3 separate regions of the Homo sapiens genome follow, and regions 2 and 3 are each reported to be linked to region 1. Evidence: microRNA targets listed by miRTarBase, many of them from high-throughput screens and not tested one by one. Region 1 holds a microRNA gene; each other region holds the end of a gene's coding sequence.

What was found. The annotated mature microRNA hsa-miR-548az-5p reads CAAAAGUGAUUGUGGUUUUUGC and lies in region 1 at 1,955-1,976, opposite strand. An mRNA with a match to its seed (bases 2 to 7 or 8) in the 3' UTR can be bound and repressed. Matches are read on the target gene's strand: a 7mer-m8 pairs with bases 2 to 8, a 7mer-A1 pairs with bases 2 to 7 and ends in A, and an 8mer does both.
Region 2: the mRNA of STMN1 is a reported target of hsa-miR-548az-5p. Seed matches in the 3' UTR shown: 7mer-m8 at 1,155-1,161.
Region 3: the mRNA of ST8SIA5 is a reported target of hsa-miR-548az-5p. Seed matches in the 3' UTR shown: 7mer-m8 at 741-747.

Annotation. Positions count from the first base shown.
Region 1 is chr8:119,323,016-119,327,165 of GRCh38, reverse strand. MIR548AZ (microRNA 548az) reads right to left here and starts at 1,995; the gene lies at 1,901-1,995.
Region 2 is chr1:25,897,802-25,901,801 of GRCh38, reverse strand. It overlaps STMN1 (stathmin 1), which reads left to right. Exons shown (of 5, transcript NM_005563.4): 4 at 120-311; 5 at 715-1,686. The coding sequence ends at 786. Among named protein-coding and RNA genes, the nearest start is that of STMN1, 6.6 kb to the left of the region's middle.
Region 3 is chr18:46,676,325-46,680,324 of GRCh38, reverse strand. ST8SIA5 (ST8 alpha-N-acetyl-neuraminide alpha-2,8-sialyltransferase 5) reads left to right here. Exons shown (of 7, transcript NM_013305.6): 7 at 1-4,000. The coding sequence ends at 283. Among named protein-coding and RNA genes, the nearest start is that of LOXHD1, 21 kb to the right of the region's middle. RefSeq lists enhancers at 2,672-3,517, 3,518-4,000.

The sequences.
Region 1 (4,150 bases):
TATGTAATGTAGAAAAAAATACAGTTAGACAGATAACCAACTAGCTGTATTGGATCAAACCTCTCTCTGAGAACAACCAAAATAGCTGAATAAAGGGGAAAGAAAAGAAAACAACAAATCGTTTGAAGATATCTGAGATCTTACTGAGGCTGCCAAGATTTGTGAATTCAAGATTCCAGGGAGAAAGAAAGGGCAGAGAGCATGACATTAGGCATCGCTTTTCTTTCAGGGCATTTGTAAATTTGAAAGCAGCAGAGAGGCTGAAGAGCTGAACAGAGATTTTGGCTTAATCATGGGACTAGAAGAATAGGAATTAGAATTTGAATCTTTCAAAGCTACACCAGAGTTGTGTGGGTAAACTGGAAACAGACAAACTCAAAAAAGACAGAAGCTCAGCTTCAAATTAATTCAATCCTCAAAGGGAAGCAAAACAGAACAAAGATCAAAGCCAAGGATATCCTATCTCTTTCATATCAGTTACCAGAAAGGAAGTGACCTCTCTTACCCAAGGCCAATCCCTCCTAGGGCTCTGCCTTATTTATCCTCTCTCAATCTTGTGTTGTTAGTTATCTTTGCTCTCTCTCCTGTACCTATAACCACACCATAAGGCATTTTTATAATCCCAAATTCCTTATTCTTTTGGCATGCATCGTGTCATGAATTCAGAGGGATTTGTTTCTTGCTACACTAATCTTCACAGAAAACCTTCCTTGAGTAGAATTAACTAGCACATCAGCTAGGCATATGGACTTTTTCTGGGCTTCCTTTTATTTTTCCCCCAGATGATTTTCATTAACACATTTCAGGCTACTGTAGATTGCTTAATATGTTAATTAAACACATTAACTTTCTTGTCAAGAATCTTGCTTTTTGATTACTTACTGTTGTGCAAGCATGCTACATTGCAGACCCTTCTAAAAAAGCCCATGAAACACTGTTGGGTAGGGTCCACGAAATTACACATTTTAGCTGAATGTCTAGCCAAGGGTTAAAGTCAATATTCAGCCTAAGTTGAAGTTGAAGATGAATATCACTTCATGGCATGAACTTCTGGGAAAAAAGAATAAATATTAAAATTTCCACATTTTATTTTAATTTTGTCATTAAAAATGCTCAAAGTCAAAGTGTATAATTTGACATTACTGTACAACACAATGATTTCCCAGCCTTCTCAGTGGAGGTCAATACACTAAACCTGTGTAATCCCAATACAGTAGACTCTCACTTTCAATTTAGATCAAAGGAGGAGCAAGCTATTCTGTTTTGAGCTCTGCCATTGTAAATATTGATGGTGAAATGGACCCTAAGATAAGATTTTCTGGGAAGAATTGCAACATATAAAGCATATATGGATATTAATTTTTACTCCAAGTCAATTTTGAATATATTTGAAAGTGAATGTTTAGGTAGTAATACTACACTTTGAATGATATGCAATCCTTCTAACTAATATTTTTATGGTGATAATAATTTTGGTTGTCTCATCCTTGATCATCAGCAAGTTTAGAGTTCCGGAGATGATAAGTAAGTCTTTCACTATTCTTCCAAAGAGCAAGCTTGAATCCCAAAACAAATTTTGTAAAATTTCCACGTCAAATCAAATTCTGGTACATTTGTGTTGTGGGTAATTTCTTATTGCATAGTATCCATACTCTCAACACCTTCAATATCATTTACTTTGTTGATCAGCATATGCAGTACCAAAGGAACTTAAAGTTGCCAAAGCACACAGGCCGAGTCTGTCTTCCATATTCTTATTATTGGTTAGTTGTTTTATATGAATGATTATAAGATGGCAGTTTTGATAGACCAGTCCCATGCTACACCACTGAAAGTGCTCTTGCCAGAGTCACCAATAATTTCTTTAACTGATCCTCAACTGACTTGATCTCTGTGCAGCAAATTTATTAGGTTGGTGCAAAAGTGATTGCAGTTTTTGCCATTAAAAGTAACAGCAAAAACCACAATCACTTTTGCACCAACCTAATACAATCTTGAATATTCCCTACTTTGTGAAATATTTTTCCCTATTATTATTACATTTTTTAAACTTTCTCTAATTACTCTGCTTTTTCCCAGTTTGTTTTGAATTTCCCTGCTTTCTGCTAATCTCTTGTATATGAATTTTCTTCCAGATTCTAGCCTAGATAGAATTTTTATTTTTTTGCTTCACGTAGCCTCTCTTTGAGGATTATATTTTTCATACTCACAAATTCAATTATATAATTTCAATCATGATTCTCAAATCTATATCTTCAGCCAAGATATTTCTCCAGAGCTTCAGATCTAATTTGTTAGTCACCTAGTAGATATCACCACATAAAATCCTATAAATATCCCCCTTTAGTGTCCTTTTTATCAGTGAAATTACCACCATCTACCTAATTATAAAAGCCAAATACCCAATAATTTTCCATGACTTGCCCTTTTCTCATTTACTTTTTATATGTAATCAGTTATCAAGCCTTGTGTTTCTATTTGATAAAATGGCTCTCCTTTTATTTTTTGCTTACCTTCATCTTTTGTTATTATCATAGTTCAGGCAATCATCTTTTGTCTTTAGTCTCAAAACACCTTCCTTTCTGGTCTTCCGTATTTTGAATTCATTACTTCCAAAAATGTTTCTATTGGAGCCAGAGGGATGGTTCCAAAAATCCAGTCAGATCATAGCATTATCCTGATTAAATATCATCCCCCATTACATTTAGAATAATACTTTGGGGGTTATTTATAAACTGCCTTCATTTAGCCACTCAATCCCATCTTTTTTCCTTCTCTCTTGTTTTCTCTGCTCCAAACATTCTGAAATTTTCTTTCTTTCTCTGAATAAATCATGATTATTCTTACCTCTAGGCCTTTGCACAAATAAAAGTTTTGATGAAGAAGTTTCAAGTTAATGGTTTGTGAATGTAAGACAATTCTATTTTTTTTTTCAATAACTGTTGCCAGGTTTGCTTTGTTGAATTCCTTCCCTGCTGGGCAACAAGAAACAGTGATATCTCAGTTTGACAAATAACTTTTTATTTACTTCTGATTAAAAATAGTCTTAATTTGGGGTAGTAAAACTTTCCTTTTTTAAAAGCTTGTGCAGGGCTTCTGTATAGTATACGTATTGAACAGGGTTTATGTGTCGATATGGATAGGGTTGGATGTGTTGTTGGCTTTCTCCCTCTCTTTATCTTTTTCCCAGTGCCTGTTGTATTGATGATGATGTAAAGGGGTGTGTGCATGTTGTGGGTGGGGGGGTGTGAATGTGTGTACGTGTGTGCATGTGTGGATGTCTATGTAGTATGAAGGGGGAGATGGTAGAGGAGTGGGATGTCTTTGCTTATGCTGTATTAGTGATAGTGAGGTGTTATGGTTGAATCACCTAATACACACTGTTTCCTTATGTCTGGTGTTGTTACTTGGTCTACACTGAGAGAAGTCAGATGCCAGGTTTAGAGTTATAATAAGATTGATCTGATTTTTGGAAATATCCTTCTGGCTAAGTTGAAACCCATTAGGAGTAATCAATTAGAAATATAGGCAGTCTTCTAAGGCTGACAAAAACAATAAATTGGGGAAGGACTCCGTATTCAATAAATGGTGCTAGGATAACTGTCTAATCATATGCAGAAGAATGAAACTGGACCCTTTCATCATATACACAAATCAGCTACAAATGGGTTAAAGATTTTAATGTAAGACCTCAAACTATAAAAATCCCAGAAGAAAACCTAGGGAATACCCTCTTGACATCAGCCTTGGCAAAGAATTTATGGCCAAGTCCCCAAAAGCAATTGCAGCAAAAACAAAAATTGTTAAGTGGGACCTAATTAAACTGAAGAGCTCTCCACAGAAAAAGAAACCATCAACTGAGTAAACAGACAACATATAGAATGGGAGATAATATTCCCAAGCCATGCATCTGACAAAGGTCTAATATCCAGTCTATAAGGAATTTAAACAAATCAACAAGCAAAAACCAAATAACCCTATTTAAAAATAGACAAAGAACGTGAACAGACACTTCTCAATAGAAGACAAGTGGCCAACAAACATGAAAAAATGCTCACCATCACTAATCATGAGAGAAATACAAAGCAAAACCATGAGATACCATCTCACACCAGTCAGAACAGCTATCATTAAAAAGTCAAAAAACAGC
Region 2 (4,000 bases), not on the chromosome of region 1:
CTGACCTCAAATGATCCACCCACCTTGGCCTCCCAAAGTGCTGGGATTACAGGCGTGAGCCACCACACCCAGCCTGAATACATTTTAGAGTGCCTAGCCTATTAAACTTTTTTTTCCAGTCCCATGAAGCTGAGGTCTTGAAGCAGCTGGCTGAGAAACGAGAGCACGAGAAAGAAGTGCTTCAGAAGGCAATAGAAGAGAACAACAACTTCAGTAAAATGGCAGAAGAGAAACTGACCCACAAAATGGAAGCTAATAAAGAGAACCGAGAGGCACAAATGGCTGCCAAACTGGAACGTTTGCGAGAGAAGGTTGGTTTCTTACTTTGTAAAAGGGTTGAGCTTGGAGTTTGATGCACCAATGAGTTGGCTTGAACTAAGTGCTTTGATAAAAGGTGTTTGGTGTCTTTTTGTCATCCATTTTGGGGCTTAACATATTAAATGAAAGGTATATTTTAAGATGGAATATTCAGTAATTCCCAGCATAATTGCACAGTCCTTGGAAGTCCAGTAGGCAGCTTGTTAGGTTCTACAAGGGACCCAGGAGATTTGATGATGATGTCTCAGAACTTAAATTGTGTGGTTCCCACAGGCTGTAATATATGCACTGAGGTTGTGTTGGGCCTCTTTGAGGTGGGGGCTGGGGGTCGTGACTTGACAGGCTTTTTTTTTTTTTTTTTTTTTTGACTGATGACACCTTACCCTTCCTTTACAGGATAAGCACATTGAAGAAGTGCGGAAGAACAAAGAATCCAAAGACCCTGCTGACGAGACTGAAGCTGACTAATTTGTTCTGAGAACTGACTTTCTCCCCATCCCCTTCCTAAATATCCAAAGACTGTACTGGCCAGTGTCATTTTATTTTTTCCCTCCTGACAAATATTTTAGAAGCTAATGTAGGACTGTATAGGTAGATCCAGATCCAGACTGTAAGATGTTGTTTTAGGGGCTAAAGGGGAGAAACTGAAAGTGTTTTACTCTTTTTCTAAAGTGTTGGTCTTTCTAATGTAGCTATTTTTCTTGTTGCATCTTTTCTACTTCAGTACACTTGGTGTACTGGGTTAATGGCTAGTACTGTATTGGCTCTGTGAAAACATATTTGTGAAAAGAGTATGTAGTGGCTTCTTTTGAACTGTTAGATGCTGAATATCTGTTCACTTTTCAATCCCAATTCTGTCCCAATCTTACCAGATGCTACTGGACTTGAATGGTTAATAAAACTGCACAGTGCTGTTGGTGGCAGTGACTTCTTTTGAGTTAGGTTAATAAATCAAGCCATAGAGCCCCTCCTGGTTGATACTTGTTCCAGATGGGGCCTTTGGGGCTGGTAGAAATACCCAACGCACAAATGACCGCACGTTCTCTGCCCCGTTTCTTGCCCCAGTGTGGTTTGCATTGTCTCCTTCCACAATGACTGCTTTGTTTGGATGCCTCAGCCCAGGTCAGCTGTTACTTTCTTTCAGATGTTTATTTGCAAACAACCATTTTTTGTTCTGTGTCCCTTTTAAAAGGCAGATTAAAAGCACAAGCGTGTTTCTAGAGAACAGTTGAGAGAGAATCTCAAGATTCTACTTGGTGGTTTGCTTGCTCTACGTTACAGGTGGGGCATGTCCTCATCCTTTCCTGCCATAAAAGCTATGACACGAGAATCAGAATATTAATAAAACTTTATGTACTGCTGTAGCAACTCCTGTGAAATGACTAAAGGGAACCTTAATTATTTCTAAAGTAGCATTTGACTCGGGTGGTTAAGGTTGGCAGATACGTCATCTTGTATCCAGAGGCTGTAATAGTCCCCATTGTCAGTGCTTTGCCTCTCAATTCAGGGAACGCCTTTGGCAGCTTTCCTGTGCTATTTGAGAAATAGCCTAATTATACATATTTTGTGCCTCTCAGACATCTGTATAAAAGCTCTTGGAAGCCAAGCACTTATAGCAAAAGATGATTGCTAATACTGCGGTGGGGTCCATGTGTTGCTAACGCATGTGCCTCTGCTGCTTGGGCTGTATCTTGAGATTGGGGTTTTACCAAACTTATTCATGAGAACAATAACAGCCTACCTCAACTTACCTCCTAAGATTGTTAGGATTAAATGGGTTTGTGGCAAGAGAGCACACTTAGAACATAGATATTTAGCATTCCGTATAAATCACGATTACTGTTTTCAACCAGAGGCTAATGAGTGATCTAAGTTTATACTCTTGAGTTGGAAATTATGCAGTTTTTATATTCCTTAAATTGACTTTTAAATTTACTTAAATGATCAATCAGAGGAATTCTGAACAAAGCTTGGTTTAAGGAGTTACGCCCATGTAGGGCAAATAGGAGCAAGTGCAAGTATAGTTGAATACAACAATAGGTTCTGAGCAATATCTAAACCAAGAGGACAGGATGAGGCTTGTGTGCAGTGGTGCAGCACAGTTCATCTTGGCTCCTGTCTCTGGCACATAGCAGGTGCTCTGGGATCTTTAAAATACCAGTTCTGAATAGATGGGAATATAAAGAGGGCCTGAGGGTAGAAACTTGGCATAATGATACGAGGTGTCCTACAAGTGGCAGTGAGCTTTTGTTCATCTAAGACATTTAGGGAGGGAAACTGGCCTCAGGAGAAAGCAAGGGAAGGATCAACAGGCCTGAAAGGATGCCTCATCAGTTACCACCCATCCCATGGTGGCCCTGACTTCCTATCAGAGGGCGATCCTGAGCCCCTGCCTTGTGACAGGCTTAAGTCACAGGAAACTGAAGGGGATGCATCTTACCACAGAAATAGAAGCTCTGGCTTTTCTATTTCACCTTGACCTTTGGAGAAGCACTTAGTCCTGGGCCCCCATTTTCTCCTGGATAAAATGAGATGGTTGGGGGAGATCAGTTAAGTAACTTTCACTCCCCCATTCTTTGCATCTGGCTTGGAGTGAAGAGGAGGAGCGGTGGCACCTACGAGCTTCTGGGGAAGTGTCTCTGGGTATGCATTCCCGGGCCCGGCATTCTCTGCCATCACGGGAGTCTGCGTCTGTCCCAGTGGGGCCAGCCTCTCCCAGCAGTACTTCCAATAGATTGGCCTAATAAGGCCAGAGTGGTTTGACAAGCAGTTGGGGCTGTCACCAAGGAGCAGACTCCATTCCTTTTGTCTTGAATGGAAAATGAGGCTTGTCCCTTCCTGAGGATTTTGTACTTGGGCCTTATGGTTGACTGGGCTCAGTGGAGAGAGGTTTGAAGGACGTGAAGGAGGCCCTTAAATTAACATTTGACAAGCACCTAGATTGTGCTCCACACTGGCCTTTGCGCTAGGGATGGAGAAAAGATGGGGTGGGACCAGCATATCACGTGCCCATGTGAGGGGAAGGAGAGCTGTAGAATGCTTACTTACCTGAGGGTGAGGCTCTCGACCACATACTTGTACTCACCAGGGTGCTTTAGTGCTTTGGTGAAAGGAGTGACCACAGAGGGCTTTGTGGTCTGGGAAGCTTTGAGAGGAGAAAGGACATGAGCTTGTCCTTTTGGAAGTCAGATGAACCTTCCAAGCCAAACCCCAATAAAGCACTTAATTGTTAAACACTTAGTAAGCCTGTGATTGCCACGTGCACAGAGAACCTGCCATAGTTAATGGCCTTTGGCAGGCCCTCCAGGCAGGCCCCCTCCCCATTTTTTTATTCTAAGCAGTGGAGGCTCTTTGAAGGCTTTTGAATGTGGGGGGCTGCAGTGGTCAGTAACAAAACCATTTTAAGGAAGAGAAAGTGGAGGCAGGGTGAGTTGACTGGAGAGTGGCTGCCGTTCAGGCTACGGTGGCCATGGTGGCTGTTGGGGCAGCACAGGGATGAGGTGGGAGGGCCTGCTGGGCTCTGGAGCAATCCATGTGACTGACACTGCACTGAGGAACTGGGACATGTGCTCTAAACTTGGGAAGCTGGAGGAGAAAGAAATCACTCCACTTGGGAAAATGGCAGTGCTACTATTTACTGAGCACTTAACGTCCAGGCATCGTGTTCATTTTCTCCACCATA
Region 3 (4,000 bases), not on the chromosome of region 1:
CAACGTGTCGCGCTACTGGCTCAGCCTGGGGGTGCGCGCCAAGCGCATCAGCACCGGCCTCATTCTGGTCACTGCGGCGCTGGAGCTCTGTGAGGAGGTGCACCTCTTTGGCTTCTGGGCCTTCCCCATGAACCCCTCGGGCCTCTACATCACTCACCACTACTATGACAACGTCAAGCCGCGTCCCGGCTTCCACGCCATGCCCTCTGAGATCTTCAACTTCCTGCACTTGCACAGCCGAGGCATCCTCCGCGTGCACACGGGCACCTGCAGCTGCTGCTGATGGCTGCCAGCCAGGCTGCCCGGCAAGCGGCGCCCCCTCTCCTGCTGTCCCTCCTGGTGGAACTGGGAGCCCCGAACCGGGCAGCGTGGGGTCCTGGCGTTCAGGCTGTCTCTCCCTCCATTGTTCAGCTCTGTACTTGGATCCTGGGGTAGGGAGGCAGGGTTAGGAACCGGGGCAGAGTCAGCTCTGTGCTGAGCCTCCTGGCCTGGCCCCCACCGGTGCATCCGCCCAGTGCGTCCACCTGCCCTGGCTAGCATGCTGCTGGGCCACACCCCAAGATCAGGGGCCCTGGGGACGGCAAGTGAATAAAGCACATTTCCACCCAATTTTGTCATCCGAGAGAGAGCACAAACTGCAGGCCCTTGTTGCAGCTGAAGGAAGACCCTACAGAGAATGGAATTGAGAGTGGAGACAGGACACTTCACAGGACACTTGAGCACAGTCAAGATTTTATTCACACTTTTGGTTCCTGTGTTTTATATCGAAGACTTAGCTATGAATTGCTATCTAAATCTCAGAGCTTAGAAGCCAACCCAGTGACTAGACCTTCCAGTGAAGAAAGTGATCTCAAGAGGTCCAGGGACTTAACAGCCAAGCCACACCACCCGACAGGTTCTTCTGTGACACCGAGAGATCTAACCCAAGGCCTGGGTTATGTCTTAGTCGAGACATCATCATCTGAGAAGCACCACATCCTTTCAGACACATCCTCGGACACACATGCGGTCTTGGTGCCCCCAGGTTCAATCCTGCGTTAGCTCTTTTGATGAGAAGGAAATAAACCAAACCAGCCACTTGCACTATGGCTTCCAAGCCAATGTTATTGACTCAATAAGTGCTTAGCAATTGGCTTCCTCTTTTGTCTTCCTATTTTCAGCTCCATTTAAACCAGGAGTTATTTATAAAGACCTCTTCCTCTCATGTCTCTGAATCCTGCAGAATCCTGCTGTATCGTGTTCCTCAGTCGGAACCATAGGCTCTGGGCTGGAAAGCACTGACATGTCAGGTGGTGAGCTTAGCAGAGAGAAACGAGTTGTGGCCTCCGACACCAGCATCACTGAGGCTTCCGCTGTGAAGGCGGGACTTCTCACAGCAGACCCCAGGGCCTGGGCTTGGGGCAGTCAGCTGGGCTTAGGCAGAGAGGGGTTCACATATCATTTCACATCTGAAATTAATTCCCTTTGCTTCTCCCTGTGGTGTTTCCACCATAAATGGGATGGTGTCTAAGAGACACTGTTGGTGAACTAACTGCCTTAGAACTTAGCTTTGTGGAATCATAGGATGTTAGTGCTGGGAGGAGGACTTCAGCCTACCTGCCTGGCAACCTGTCTCCCTCCCTCCTTCCTTTCTCCCTGCCTCCTCCCCTTTCTCCTTCCCTCCCTTCCTCTTTTCTTCCTCCCCTTAAACATTTCTGGAAAGCCTATTCTGCTTTGGTCTGTGGTTGGACTTAGGAAGACATAAGGATAAACAAAGGCATTATCTGTGTCTTCTGGGGGTGCAGGGCCCAGAGATTATAGACCCAGTCCCACGTGCTGGGTGCTCTGGGAGGGTTAGGAGCTGTAAGAGTCTATCAGGGAGTGGGATCTGCTATCCAATCACCTCATTTGACAGGCCCCCCGGCTGAGCCAGTCAGGGACGTGGAGAGTGCAGGCTTTATCCCAGGCCTCCAGGCTCCTGATCCAGGGCTCCGTTCTTGGCCAAACTTTTGTGTCTTGGCTTGGGCTTCCTGTGGGGGGGTTGTTGTGGAACCTGTGCCCTGTGCACAACACTGTTCTCAGTGCTGACTCTCACCTGCATTCTGAGCTCTGGTCCTGGTTGGGAAAACCTCAGGTGGCTCTGAGTCTCAGTCTGCTGGTCAGGAATGTAGGGGAGTAGCCAAGGGGATGAAATGATCCCAAACACCTGCTAAACCAGGAAGAACTGCAAAGGACAGTGGATGGTTATTACTTGCTTGAGCTCTGCCTATTTCTCCCAGGGAGGGAATTTCTGGGAAAGATTCCAGTTACCTGAGATTTCTAGCCACTGCATGGTTAATTGAACCCAGTTCTTGAAACCATGGAATATAAAAACTAGAAGGTTCTTAAAGACCATTTTGTTCCACTTTAGGAAACAGGCCCAGAGCAAAGATGTGACTGGGTCAAGTCATGCCTGGGGCTCTACTGAGTGCCTGCTGTGGACAGAGCCCTCTACTGGAAGCCCTCTGGGTACTAGTTATGTTCCAGATGGGCAGTGTTTGGGGGAGGCTCCCTGGTGACACAGACATCAGGATTCCCACAGCTGAGGGTGTTGCAGGTTGGAATCTGCCCCAGCCAGGGCCCTCGTAGGAGCTGAGGATTGGAGCATCGGGATCCAGCCCACAGAGGAGTTGGGACACCTGGCTGCTGGCCATATTCCTGCCTGTGGGTCTTAGGGCCAGTCCTTCCTCTCCCTCAATGTCTCAGTTTCCTCATCTCTACAACTAGAAGCTTTGTAAAAATCTTCAGCGTCTGTACAATGTCCTTATTTTGGGGGGACATTCATGATGAATGGATCTAAACCATAATTAATATTTCTCATTATACTAGCTAGCATTTATCAAGCTACGTTAAGCACTTTCCCTATATTATCTCCTGTAATCATCATGAGACCCCTTTGGGTAAGGAGGCTCCCATTGTACAGATGAGGAGACAGAGGCTTAAAGCAATTCCAGGACTTGCCCTTGGTCAGGCACCCAATGGAGGGAACGGCACCCAATGGAGGGAACTGCACCCAGATCTGTAGAGCCCCAAAGTCTGTGCTCCAAACCTCTGTCTTAGCTTCCCAGACAGTGACACCAGAACATGAGGGATCCTGACCAAGATGCCCCTGCAGGATAGTACGGGGCCCTCCTCCAGGGACAAATGCTCTAGGAGGCTGTCATCGTCCGGGAAGCAGCCTGTGCTTATAGGTGCCTCTCCCTAACCCTGCCGCCTACAGCAGTAGCGACTTACCCACAGTGGCACTGGAGGGGAACTGAGGCCATCGTCACATTTTTAAGGTGAGGAAAGATGCCCAGAGATAGCACATGTTAAGTGACAACACGAATGACTTGCCCAGGGCTACATGGCCAGCTTGTGGCTCAACTGGGACTCACCAGTCTCCTGACTTTCAGGATATAGTTTTTCTGCTGCAGCCAGTGTTTATAAGAAAAACATTTTTTCAAAGGCTCAGAGAGACCTGGTGTTGACTCTGGAAGCCTTCTGCCATGTTCCTCCACAGCCCTGTCACCACGCCACCATGCAGTGCAGACTACCCATTGAATTATTATTCAAGGGAAATCGATTCCCGTAAACAAAACAACCATCATGTCTTCCTTTGTGCTAAACCCACTGCTCCAGGCTTGAAAGGCAGCAAAAACAAGTAAATGACTCAGTGCTTAGCCAAGCACAAAGAAAGGTGGCTCAAGGTCAGAGGCAGCGTCTGAGACCATTTCAGCAATGCTGCTGCGGCAGCTCTGCCCACTAATCACCTGGTGCCCAGAGACAGCATGTGCTCATCGCCCTTGACTTTGCTGAGAGCAGGGAGGAAGCAGAGCAGTGCTTAGAAACAACTGAGGCAGAGTAGAGTGCTGGCCAATTTAGTGAGTGAATTGGTGAATAAATTATATTTATTGAGTGCTCATGTTGTGCCAGGCATGGTGCCAGGTGCCGGGGAGCTAGTGATGAACAAAACGTCGTCCCTGCCCTCCGGGAGTTTGTG